Homo sapiens: one gene and its partners. The protein of the gene in region 2 purifies or fractionates together with the protein of the main gene of each other region. This does not show direct contact. Each region holds a gene or a part of one and is shown on either strand. Other genes may lie near its edges. The genes, in order: APOD, TSNARE1 and SNAP29.

Region 1 (3,649 bases), on a different chromosome or scaffold from region 2:
ATAAAGCAGTTATAATTATTCCTGTAATGACACATCCTTCGAAATGCTCAGATCTGAGAACATTTTGCTTGCATTGCATCAGTCATCATCATTACAGGGAGAAATGCAGAGAGCTGGAAATAGCTCGTGTGCAAGCTACAGGCAAGGAGTCACAAGGAAAGGAGCAAATTGACAGCGAGTCAGTGAAGGAAACAGGGGAGCTTCCAATGCCCAGAACCTGCACACAGTCCTGCAGCCTCTGTCTCCCTGCCTTGCTGCCCCGCTTCAAAGCCAGCTTCTGCTGCCAAAGGACTCTTGGGGTTGAAATGCTTGTTGCACAGTTACACATCAGCTGACAGTCCTTCTCTGATTTAATGAACTTCATCTATGAAAAATACCCTCAACAGGCCGGGTGCGGTGGCTCAGGCCTGTAATCCCAGCACTTTGGGAGGCCAAGGCGGGTGGATCCCCTGAGGTCAGGAGTTTGAGACCAGCATGGCCAACATGGTGAAACCCTGTCTCTACTAAAAATACCAAAATTAGCCGGGAGTTGTGGTGGACACCTGTAATCCCAGCTACTCAGGAGTCTGAGGCAGGAGAATCACTTGAACCCGGGAGACAGAGGTTGCAGTGAGCCGAGATTGTGCCACTGCACTCCAGCCTGGGTGACAGAGTGAGACTCCATCTCAAAACAAAACAAAACAAAACAAAAACCCTCAACAGAATGTCAAAAAAAAAAAAAGAAGAAAGAAAGAAGAAAAGAAAAGAAAGAAGAAACCTGGGAAATACCATCATCTTTCTGCTTTTGATAATAACAATAACTAGCATTTATTGAGCATTTACTCTGTATCAGACACTCCTCTAAGTACTCTCTGTATATTATCTCATTTAATTCTCACAAAAATTCATGAGCTAGGAATGATAATTATTCCCATTTACTAGACAAAGAAGCTAAGGCATAAATTGGACACAGTTATACTTAGTATGGGGCAGAGTCACAATTTGAACCTGGCTGGGGTGACCCTGGAGCCCCCAGCAGGCCGCTCCCTGTTAAGGTTTCCAAGCGCACTCTTGGGCTGGTAGAACAGCCAGCAAGACGAGGGCAGGGGGAGGGATGGTGTCAGAGAGGCATCTCCCTGAAGAATCTCAGAGGACACTAAGTGTTGGGCAACATTTGGTTTGGTTTCGTGTCTTTCGTGGTTCACTTGGAGGCTTTAATCCCCCACTTTACATAGCCCTCTCCACGCTGTTTCTGTTCATTTGACAAGTATCTACTGAGCCGACACTTTGAGGTCCGTGGGTGATTCTGAGGAGAACTAGACACAGTGCCCATCCTGGGAGATGCATAATTAGGTGGGACAGGGGTGAAAATCAATCCAACAAACCAGAATACCAGGCAGAGAGCGCCCTCGTGGAGGTGCAGAGGCTCTGAGGAAGGCCTCACAGCAACAAGGACAGGCAGGTGTTCCCCTGCAGGATGAGGGTTCACATGGGCTGGGGAGAGAAGAGGAGGGACCGCCCACAGAGGGGACCATGGGCACAGCACTCTTACTTCATGATTGTGTGGCCTTAGAAGGCTCAGAATGACAACCCCAGCTGCTTTGCGTTCCCGCAGCTCCAGGTCCCTTCTCCAGCCACCCAGCCCCAAGATGGTGATGCTGCTGCTGCTGCTTTCCGCACTGGCTGGCCTCTTCGGTGCGGCAGAGGGACAAGCATTTCATCTTGGGAAGTGCCCCAATCCTCCGGTGCAGGAGAATTTTGACGTGAATAAGGTAAAAGGCGAACCTCCCGTTTGTTTTGCTGCCTCCGCTGTGAATAAGCGTTCTACAAGGTTCAATGTAATTATGCTGCTTTAATTTCCACTGCACACCTTGGGACAAGTATTTATCTTATTTGGGGTTTCCCCAAAGCAGACATCTGCTGAGATAAAGACTGCAGGCAGAGAGGTTTGGGATGATCCCGGGACGCACGAGAGCAGGTGGGAAGGTGAGTCGGAGACAGCACAGAAGCAATAAAGGGTGCGTTCCTGAGCTGTCGCCCTGGGCCGTCAGGGTCAGTCACACTGGGCACCCTCTGAGGACACGTGGAGCATGCCCCTCCGATTGTCCCACAGCTGCTGCCAGCAGGTCATGGGAGCATCCGTGGCTCTAGCTGAGCCCCCTGGCAGAGGAGAGACACAGGGTCTCAGGTGGGAGGCTGGCAGTGTCTGGGAATTGCCTACCGTGGCTGCGGTGAACTCAGAGGTGGGCTGAGGGGAACAGGACCAGGGAACCATAGTAGCTGCTACAGAGCTATTATCCTTGTTCTACAGATGCAGCATCGGAATCTCCCTCCCCAGCTCACGCAGCTGGTAAATGCAAGTAGGATTCAAAACCAGGCTTCTCAGCAGTGCAGGGCACCCAAAGGTCACTCAAACAGGGCTCAGGAAAGCCCAAAATTCTCCAGGGGGCTTTCTTGGTATCTGCACCAAAATGTCATCAATACAACGAGCTCCTCCATAGATGGTCTTTCTTCCTGGGGTTTAGCGGGAGGGGAAGGAAGAGGGCGGCAGAAAGAGGCAGCTATTGGAGGACAGGACTCACAGGCTCCCACTGTTGCTACTCAAGCCTGGAATCTCACCCTTAAGACTTCCTCTCCTTAGGAGAAGGTTTGGATCTCTTTTAAGAATGGCAACAGTAACATCGAAGTTGTTATCATACACTCGCACCTCAAGGTGAATGAGTGTTGGGACCTCTGAGGGGACGCTGGGTGGGAGAAGGAGCACCATCCATGGGATCAGGAGATACAGGTGTGGTAGGAAGAGGCCATAGAGTACACTAACGTCTACACTGACTTGCTCCACTTACAGGCTGATCCCTTTATTCAGGTAACTCTGATAGACCACAGAGAGGCTTTAAAGAAAACATCCAAGGAATCTGAGTTATACTTTCGCTTTTGGATACAAATCCCAAAGCACTTTGGAAATGATAACTGATCTGTATTTATAGAAGTCCTTTGAGAATTAAAGCAGGATTTAAAAAATAGCAGCTTTATTGAGATATAATTTGTATAGCACGTAATTCACTTGTTTAAAGTAGCTTTTCACTTTCCATTGTTGTTAGTATCATCACAGAGTTACGCAACCATCACCACCACCATCGATTTAGAACATTTCACTGTTCCGAAAAGGAACCTCATACCCATTCACGGAGTCTCCATCTCCCCTCCAACCCTTCCAGCCCCAGGCAACCACTAATCTACTTTCTGTCTCCGAATTTGCCTATTCTGCATATTTGATAAAAATGAAATCATACTATATGTGGTCTTTTGTGACTGGTTTACTGAACGTTTTCAAGGTTCATCCACGTTGTAGCATGTATCAATACTATATCCCCTTTTATTGCCAAATAATATTCTTGTAGGAAATCGTTATAGGAAATCAATTGACTGTATATGTGAGAGTTTATTTTTGCACTCTCAGTTCTATTGATCTATATGTCTATACTTATGCCAGTACCACACAGTGTTGATTACTATAGCTTTGTAGTAATCAAAGCCTTGAGGTAAGCTTTGAAATAAGAACACATGTGTCCTCCAACTTTGTTCTTCTGGTTATTCCGTGTCCCTTACATTTTTATATGAATTTTAGGATCAGCGTGTCAATTTCTGCAAATAATCCAATTGGAATTTG
Region 2 (3,649 bases):
AAGTAGACTCAGACGCGTCACAGCCCCTGGTGTACCTTGGCTTCCCCTCACTGCTCGTGGCCAGTGTGGCGGTACATGTGCCCCCAAACTGCTTCCCTGCTGTGTCATTCCGGAGTAAATCCCAGATAGCAGATCATCTCATCTGGTAATATTTCAGCGTGTCTCTAAAAGAGAAGGACTCCTTTTATGTGTGACCAGATTTCCACTGTGACAGCACGTTTGGCTGCCATACCCGACCTGCAGTTGAAGTGGCCGACGGCCTCTAGGAGTGTCTGTTTCAGAGATGCCGTTTAACGTGGAGCCTCCCGAGATCCCGTGTTACAGCTGACCTATGCTCCTCCTTCGAGTGTGTCTCTGTCTCTGGCTTCCCTCCATCTCTTTATTTCCCTCCAAGTTTATTTGTTGAAGAAACCAGGGTTTTCCTGTGTGGTGTAATTGATTTTTGTGTACTGGTTTGTGTCCAGCCATGTTGCTAAACCCTTTTTATTGTAATTATTTGTCTGTGGAATCTGTTGAGCTTTCCCTGTAGATGGTGGTGTTTGTGCATAATGACAGTGTTTTCGCTCCTTTTCCAGTGCTTTCACCTATTATGTGTTTCTTTTCCTGGCTGGAACCTCTACTGCAGTGTTGAATGGAGATGGTGGTTCTATTCTTGGTGAGTTTGTGGAAGAACAGGATTATGTATTCCTTGAATGTTTCTGGGTTTTTGCTGTAAAACTATGTGGGTCTAGTGTTTTCCTTTGTGGAAAGATTTTCTGACTACCAGTTAATTCCTCTAGTTGTCAAACGTTATTCAGGCTTTCTGTTTCTTCTTGGGTCAGTTTTGTTAAGTTGCATTTTTCTGGAAATTCGACTGTTTTATCTAAATGTTCAACTTACTGAAATGAAATTGTACACAATAGCCTTTCGCTGTCAGTTGTGACACTGGGGCACCCTCATGTAATGGTTAAGATGCAGATGCAGAAGCCGGCCTGCCCTGGTCCCAGCCCTGCCCGCCCTGCCTGCCCTGGTCCCAGCCCTGCCTGCCGAGGTCCCAGCCCTGCCCACCCTGCCTGCCCTGATCCCAGCCCTGCCCGCCCTGCCTGCCCTGGTCCCAGCCTTGCCTGCCCTGCCTGCCCTGCCTGCCCTGCCTGCCCTGCCTGCCCTGGTCCCAGCCCTGCCTGCCCTGGTCCCAGCCCTGCCCGCCCTGCCTGCCCTGGTCCCAGCCTTGCCCGCCCTGCCTGCCCTGGTCCCAGCCTTGCCTGCCCTGCCTGCCCTGGTCCCAGCCCTGCTAGTCTTTGTCCCAGCGTGCCAGCCCTGCCTGCTTGGTCCCTGCCCTGTCTGCCTTGCCCTGTCTACCCACCCTGCCTGCCTTGGTCTCAGCCCTGCCCACCCTGCTGCTCATGAGCTTTGTGAACTCAGGGTTGGGAAGGGGAGGTGAGAAGAGACCTCCGGCCTGGTGGTCATGCAGATGGATGTGTCGACACCCGTGAAGCTCGGGCAGGGCCGCTGAGGGCCAGTGGTGGCTGCTGCTGCTTTCACAGCCACAGCATCTCAACCACGTCCCCTTTCTCATTCCTGATATTCTGTATTTGTACCTTCTCTGTCTTCTTTTATAGTCAGTATCGACAGAGACCTGGCAGTTCCACAGGTCTCTGCAGAGATATGGCCCCTGGCTTCCCCCTTCTGTGCGTGCGAGTTTTAAATTGTGATTGATTTCTGCTCATAGTTTCATCATTTCCCTCCTTTCTTTAAGTTGATGCTATTTTATTTTTCTGACTCCCAGATTGAATATTTACCACATTCACCATGAATATGGTAAATATTCATTTCTAATAAAAGCATTGGAAATTAGAAATTTCCCTAGAAACTGCTTTAGTTGAATATCACACATTTTGAAATGTATAGTATTTTAAATTTTTTTTCAGTTCTAAATATCTTTAACTTTCCATTATGATTTCTTTGTTTAGGAATTACTTGGAAGTTTACTTCATCATTTTCAGATGTACTTTTTTCCAGTTGTCTTTTTAAAGTGATTTCAAACCCGAACACACATCTGAAAGAAAAGCACCAGTGTTGTCCCGGTTTGTTGAAAATCGTCGCGCTGGGGCTGCTTCTGGGGCATGGGGGCGAGCCTGGCTCAGTGCCTCCTTTGCTCCCCTCAGCTCTTGGCCTTCTGTGTGGGCGGGGCCTTCGAGGACCCTCAGAGCTGGGCAAGGCCTTCCAGGCAGGCTGGTGGGGCCTGGACAAATTCCCCATGGGTGTAGGGTCAGCTGCATGTGCCCAGTCCCTGCTGTGTGCCAAAGTCCTGCCACCCTAACTGTGCAGCACCTTAGGGCCGTCGTGTCACTATAACGTTCTCTGGACAGAGGCAGCAAAAAGCCAGCTAGTGAGTCGTCAACTCATAAATAACTCAGATACACAGAAGAAAGCTCCCCAGAGCTCCATGCACACGGGCCAGCTCTGTGGACAGCTAGGACATGTAGCTGTCTCCTCAGCGCACCAGCAGCGGTCAGCCTCACGATAACCTGGCAGGAAAAGAAAATGTCGACACGCCCTTGGCAGCCTGGGGCGGGAGCGGGGGCCAGGGGAGGGTGGGCATGGGGTGCCGGGAGCAGCCAGCTTTGGGGCAGCCTGGGGCGGGAGCGGGGGCCAGGGGAGGGTGGGCATGGGGTGCCGGGAGCAGCCAGCTTCGGGGCAGCCTGGGGCGGGAGCGGGGGCCAGGGGAGGGTGGGCATGGGGTGCCGGGAGCAGCCAGCTTGGGGCGGCCGGGAGTGTTCCTTCTCTTAGCCCAGCCGTGCTTCCTCTTGGACTCTGTCTTAGGAGATAGACACACGGGCAGAGGTGTTCACCACATGTGATTTGTGCGAGTGCTGACTCAGAAATACTGTAAGCATCTGGCTTTAGGGAGACGATGTGTTACAGCTGGGATAGAATTTGACGCAGGCATTAAAATCACATCGTCGAAGGCTCTCTAGTGACCCGCGCACGTTCTGTGATTTGTGGCGAATGTGGTGCGTGGAAGAAGCAAAGCCATACGTGCAGCATTTGCTTGTGGGAGACAGCCGCCCACCTCCAGGGTTAATGTTTATCTCTGGATGTTGTGATCTTTATTTTTTTATTTATAACTGTCTGCATTTACATTTTTTCTGTAATTTGTGGGTATTATTCTATTCAAAAGCAAACAGCAAATGTCCCAGGCCTGTCCCTGCCATGTTCTAGGTTCACGTGGCTCAGGTGGGCAGAGCATACTGGCCCCTCGAGGGGCGTGGGGAGCAGCGTGGAATAACGTTGGTGCAGTGGGCAGGACCTGGACTTGGGTGAGTGGATGCAGTGTGGTGAGGTGATGACATGTCCTTCTGGACTTGGGTGAACGGATGCAGTGTGGCGAGGTGATGGCGTGTCCTTCTGGACTTGGGTGAGCGGATGCAGTGTGGCGAGGTGATGGCGTGTCCTTCTGGACTTGGGTGAGCGGATGCAGTGTGGCGAGGTGATGGCGTGTCCTTCTGGACTTGGGTGAGCGGATGCAGTGTGGCGAGGTGATGGCGTGTCCTTCTGGACTTGGGTGAGCGGATGCAGTGTGGCGAGGTGATGGCGTGTCCTTGAGTGACAGCAGGGCCTGTGGTCTCTCTGGGGGCCTGTGGGACCCCATTTCTGAGCAGAGGCTGAG
Region 3 (3,649 bases), on a different chromosome or scaffold from region 2:
GGCATAAGCCACCATGCTTGGCCAATTCTTAAATTGTTTTTTCTTTTTGAGACAGAGTCTTGCTCTGTTGCCCAGGCTGGAGTGCAGTGGCGTGATCTCGATTTACTGCAACCTCCATCTCCCGGGTTCAAGCTATTCTTCTGCCTCAGCCTCCTGAGTAGCTGGGATTACAGGTGCCTACTCAAGTGATCCCCCTGCCTCAGCCTCCAAAAGTGCCAGGATTACAGCCATGCAGGCATGAGCCACTGTGTCCAGCCTATTACTTTTTTTTTTTTTTTTTGAGATGGAGTCTCACTCTGTTGCCCAGGCTGGAGTGCAGTGGCACGATCTCGGCTCACTGCAACCTCTGCTGACCAGGTTTACACCATTCTCCTGTCTCAGCCTCCTGAGTAGCTGGGACTACAGGCGCCCACTACCACGCCCGGCTAATTTTTTGTATTTTTAGTGGAGACGGGGTTTCACCGTGTTAGCCGGAATGGTCTCGATCTCCTGACCTCGTGATCCGCCCACCTTGGCCTCCCAAAGTGCTGGGATTACAGGCGTGAGCCACTGCACCCGGCCACTGTTTTTATATTTTAAATTTTGTCACTAAAAAGTTGTGAAAGTATGTTTTTTTCTCATCACGTAAGTCCCTATAAAATATCTTTGATTTTGCTCCGTGGCCTAGTTTGCTGACTCTGGCTGTAGACAGGGATAGCTCTTGCAACTCAAAGTCATTTAGACTATGCCTGATGCCCTGCTGATCCCCGACATCCTGCTGAGCCCCCTAAGGTATGGCAGGTGCCTCCAGCTGGGAGCTGTGCCTCCCCAACAGCCTGCTCTCCTCTATCTCAACAGCAGCCTGACCACTTCGCCAGCCAATCTGGGAATCAGGGTTACTCGCAATTTTTGCCCTCCCCCTGCACAGCGCTACTCCCAGTAATCCAGGCAAAACAAACGCCCTCTTGATCTCCCACCCCCTAAGTAGCCCAGAAACCCAGCCTCTCCTTCTGCCTTGCCTTTTTTTTTTGAGACATAGTCTCGCTCTGTCACCCAGGCTGGAGTGCAGTGGCGTGATCTCCACGCACTGCAAGCTCCGCCTCCTGGGTTCACGCCATTCTCCTGCCTCAGCCTCCCAAGTAGCTGGGACTACAGGCGCCCGCCACCACGCCCGGCTAATTTTTTGTATTTTTAGTACAGGGTTTTTGTATTTTATTTTGTATTTTGTATTTTAGAGACAGGGTTTCACTGTGTTAGCCAGGATGGTCTCGATCTCCTGACCTCATGATCTGCCCGCCTCGGCCTCCCAAAGTGCTGGGATTACAGGCTTGAGCCACCGTGCCCGGCCTGCCTTGCTTTTCTTTACCTTTAACAAGGATTATGGCAATGCCTCTCAATTCAATTCCCTCCCTTCCAATCCTTACTCCCCATGGGTGCTGCGCATCTTTCTAAAGCAATACTGGCAAGCACCTCTTCAGTTAAAGTCTTTAATGACTCCCAACTTGCAAGAGCAAGTCCAGACTCCCGCAAGCTAAGGGTTTTGCAGGCCCAGGGCTCCAGCTATGGGTAGAATGCAGCAGAGCCTGGTGAATGGAAGGATTTAACACTCCAGGATTTCACCCCACGGAAGCTGTGACTGAAAGTCTAGAACACAGAACTGGCTCCTCTAAGCACCACTGTGGGCAGTGCATTGCCATGCTGGGAGTAGGAAGAGACACTTGGCTTCTGAGTCTGCCTGGCCACCTTTCAGCCTGCACATCTCAACGCTGGCTTTATTCTTTCTATGTGCCATCACATATATACTGGTAATACATAAATGAGGAAAACAATGGTTTCTTTGTGAAAAATGGCTCCCCCACAAAGAAAGCCAATTTTTTTCTTTTTCTTTTTTTGAGACGGAGTCTAGCTCTGTCTCCCAGGCTGGAGTGCAGGGGCATGACCTCGGCTCACTGCAACCTCCACCTCCCTGGTTCAAGAGATTCTCCTGCTTCAGCCTCCTGAGTAGCTGGGATTATAGGTGAGCGCCACTACGCCCGGCTAATTTTTTTTTTTAGAGGGAGTTCTGCTCTTGTTGCCCAGGCTGGGGTACAATGGTGCGATCTTGGCTTACTGCAACCTCTGCCTCCCTGGTTCAAGCGATTCTCCTGCCTCAGCCTCCCAAGTAGCTGAGATTACAGGTGTGTGCCACCTTGCTTGGCTCATTTTGTATTTTTAGTAGAGACAGGGTTTCTCCATGTTGGTGAGGCTGGTCTCGAACTCCTGACCTCAGGTGATCCACCCTCCTTGGCCTCCCAAAGTGCTGGGATTACAGGCGTGAGCCACCGTGCCAGGCCTGATTTTTGTATTTTTAGTAGAGACAGGGTTTCATCATGTTGGCTAGGCTGGTCTTGAACACCTGACTTTGTGATCCGCCCACCTCAACCTCCAAAGTGCTGGGATTATAGGCGTGAGCCACCACGCTCAGCCAAGAAAGCCAATTTCTAGGGAGACTGAGAAAAGTGATAAGACAGTAGAGGTTTAAGAGAGGGTGGTTCCTGGTCAGAAACCAAGTCTTAAATAAGTTAGAGAATTTCAAATTAAGGGTGCATATGTGACAGGAACGCATGAGCTGTAAGTGGAAATGAGAACAAGCAGCTTGGAAAGCTGTCAGCAAGGACAAACAGGGCTTCCCAAGAGACAAAACTTCAGAGAAGGCCGAAGGGTTTGTGTGATAATGATGTACACAGGAAATGCATGACTGAACAGAAGTTTGATAGGAGAAACTTATTTTAAAAGCTTTTGAGGCCGAGGCGGGCAGATCACTAGGTCAGGAGATCGAGACCATCCTGGCTAACATGGTGAAACCCCATCTCTACTAAAAATACAAAAAAAATTTAGCCGGGCGTGGTGGCGGGTGCCTGTAGTCCCAGCTGCTTGGGAAGCTGAGGCAGGAGAATGGCGTGAACGTGGGAGACGGAGCTTGCAGTGAGCCGAGATCACGCCACTGCACTCCAGCCTGGGTGACAGAGCGAGATTCCATCTCAAAAAAAAAAAAAAAAAGCTTTTAAGTGGGCCAGGCACAGTGGCTCATGCCTGCAATCCTAGCACTTTGGGAGGCTGAGGCGGGAAGATCAGTTGAGCCCAGGTGGTTGAGATCAGCCTGGGAGACAAAGTGAGACCTTGTTTCTACAAAAAATACGAAAATTAGCAGTGCATGGTGGCCCATGCATGTAGTCCCAGCTACTTGGGAGGCAGAGGTGGGAGGGTTGCTGGATCCTGGGAGGTGGAGGATACAGTGAGCAGAGACTGCACCACTGCACTCCAGCCTGGGCGACAGAGCGAGACATTGTCTTAAAAAAAAAAAAAAAAAAAAGGCAAAGTTTTTAAGTGACAGTATTCCTGCATTTATGGATTAAAGGTTTTGACAGGATCACAAAAATTTTACTCACAATTTATTGCATTTTTTTTTTTTGAGATGGAGTCTCTGTCGCCCAGGCTGGACTGCAGTGGCTTGATCTTGGCTCACTGCAACCTCCACCTCCCGGGTTCATGCCATTCTCCTGCCTCAGCCTCCCAAGCAGCTGGGACTACAGGTGCCCACCATCACCCCTGGCTAATTTTTTGTATTTTTAGTAGAGACGGGGTTTCACCGTGTTAGCTAGGATGGTCTCGATCTCCTGACCTCGTGATC

Evidence for each region.
Region 1: the proteins of TSNARE1 (region 2) and APOD purify together in Homo sapiens (affinity purification with mass spectrometry; 2 studies listed by BioGRID and IntAct, with this or other methods). This does not show direct contact.
Region 3: the proteins of TSNARE1 (region 2) and SNAP29 purify together in Homo sapiens (affinity purification with mass spectrometry; 2 studies listed by BioGRID and IntAct, with this or other methods). This does not show direct contact.

Annotation. Positions count from the first base shown.
Region 1 is NC_000003.12:195,577,441-195,581,089, reverse strand, and holds part of APOD (apolipoprotein D precursor), read left to right. Parts: intron 1-1,594; 5' UTR 1,595-1,628; coding exon 1,629-1,751; intron 1,752-3,649. UniProt on the Homo sapiens protein: APOD occurs in the macromolecular complex with lecithin-cholesterol acyltransferase. It is probably involved in the transport and binding of bilin. Appears to be able to transport a variety of ligands in a number of different contexts.
Region 2 is NC_000008.11:142,347,568-142,351,216, reverse strand, and holds part of TSNARE1 (t-SNARE domain-containing protein 1), read left to right. Parts: intron 1-3,649.
Region 3 is NC_000022.11:20,875,938-20,879,586, reverse strand, and holds part of SNAP29 (synaptosomal-associated protein 29), read right to left. Parts: intron 1-3,649. UniProt on the Homo sapiens protein: SNAREs, soluble N-ethylmaleimide-sensitive factor-attachment protein receptors, are essential proteins for fusion of cellular membranes.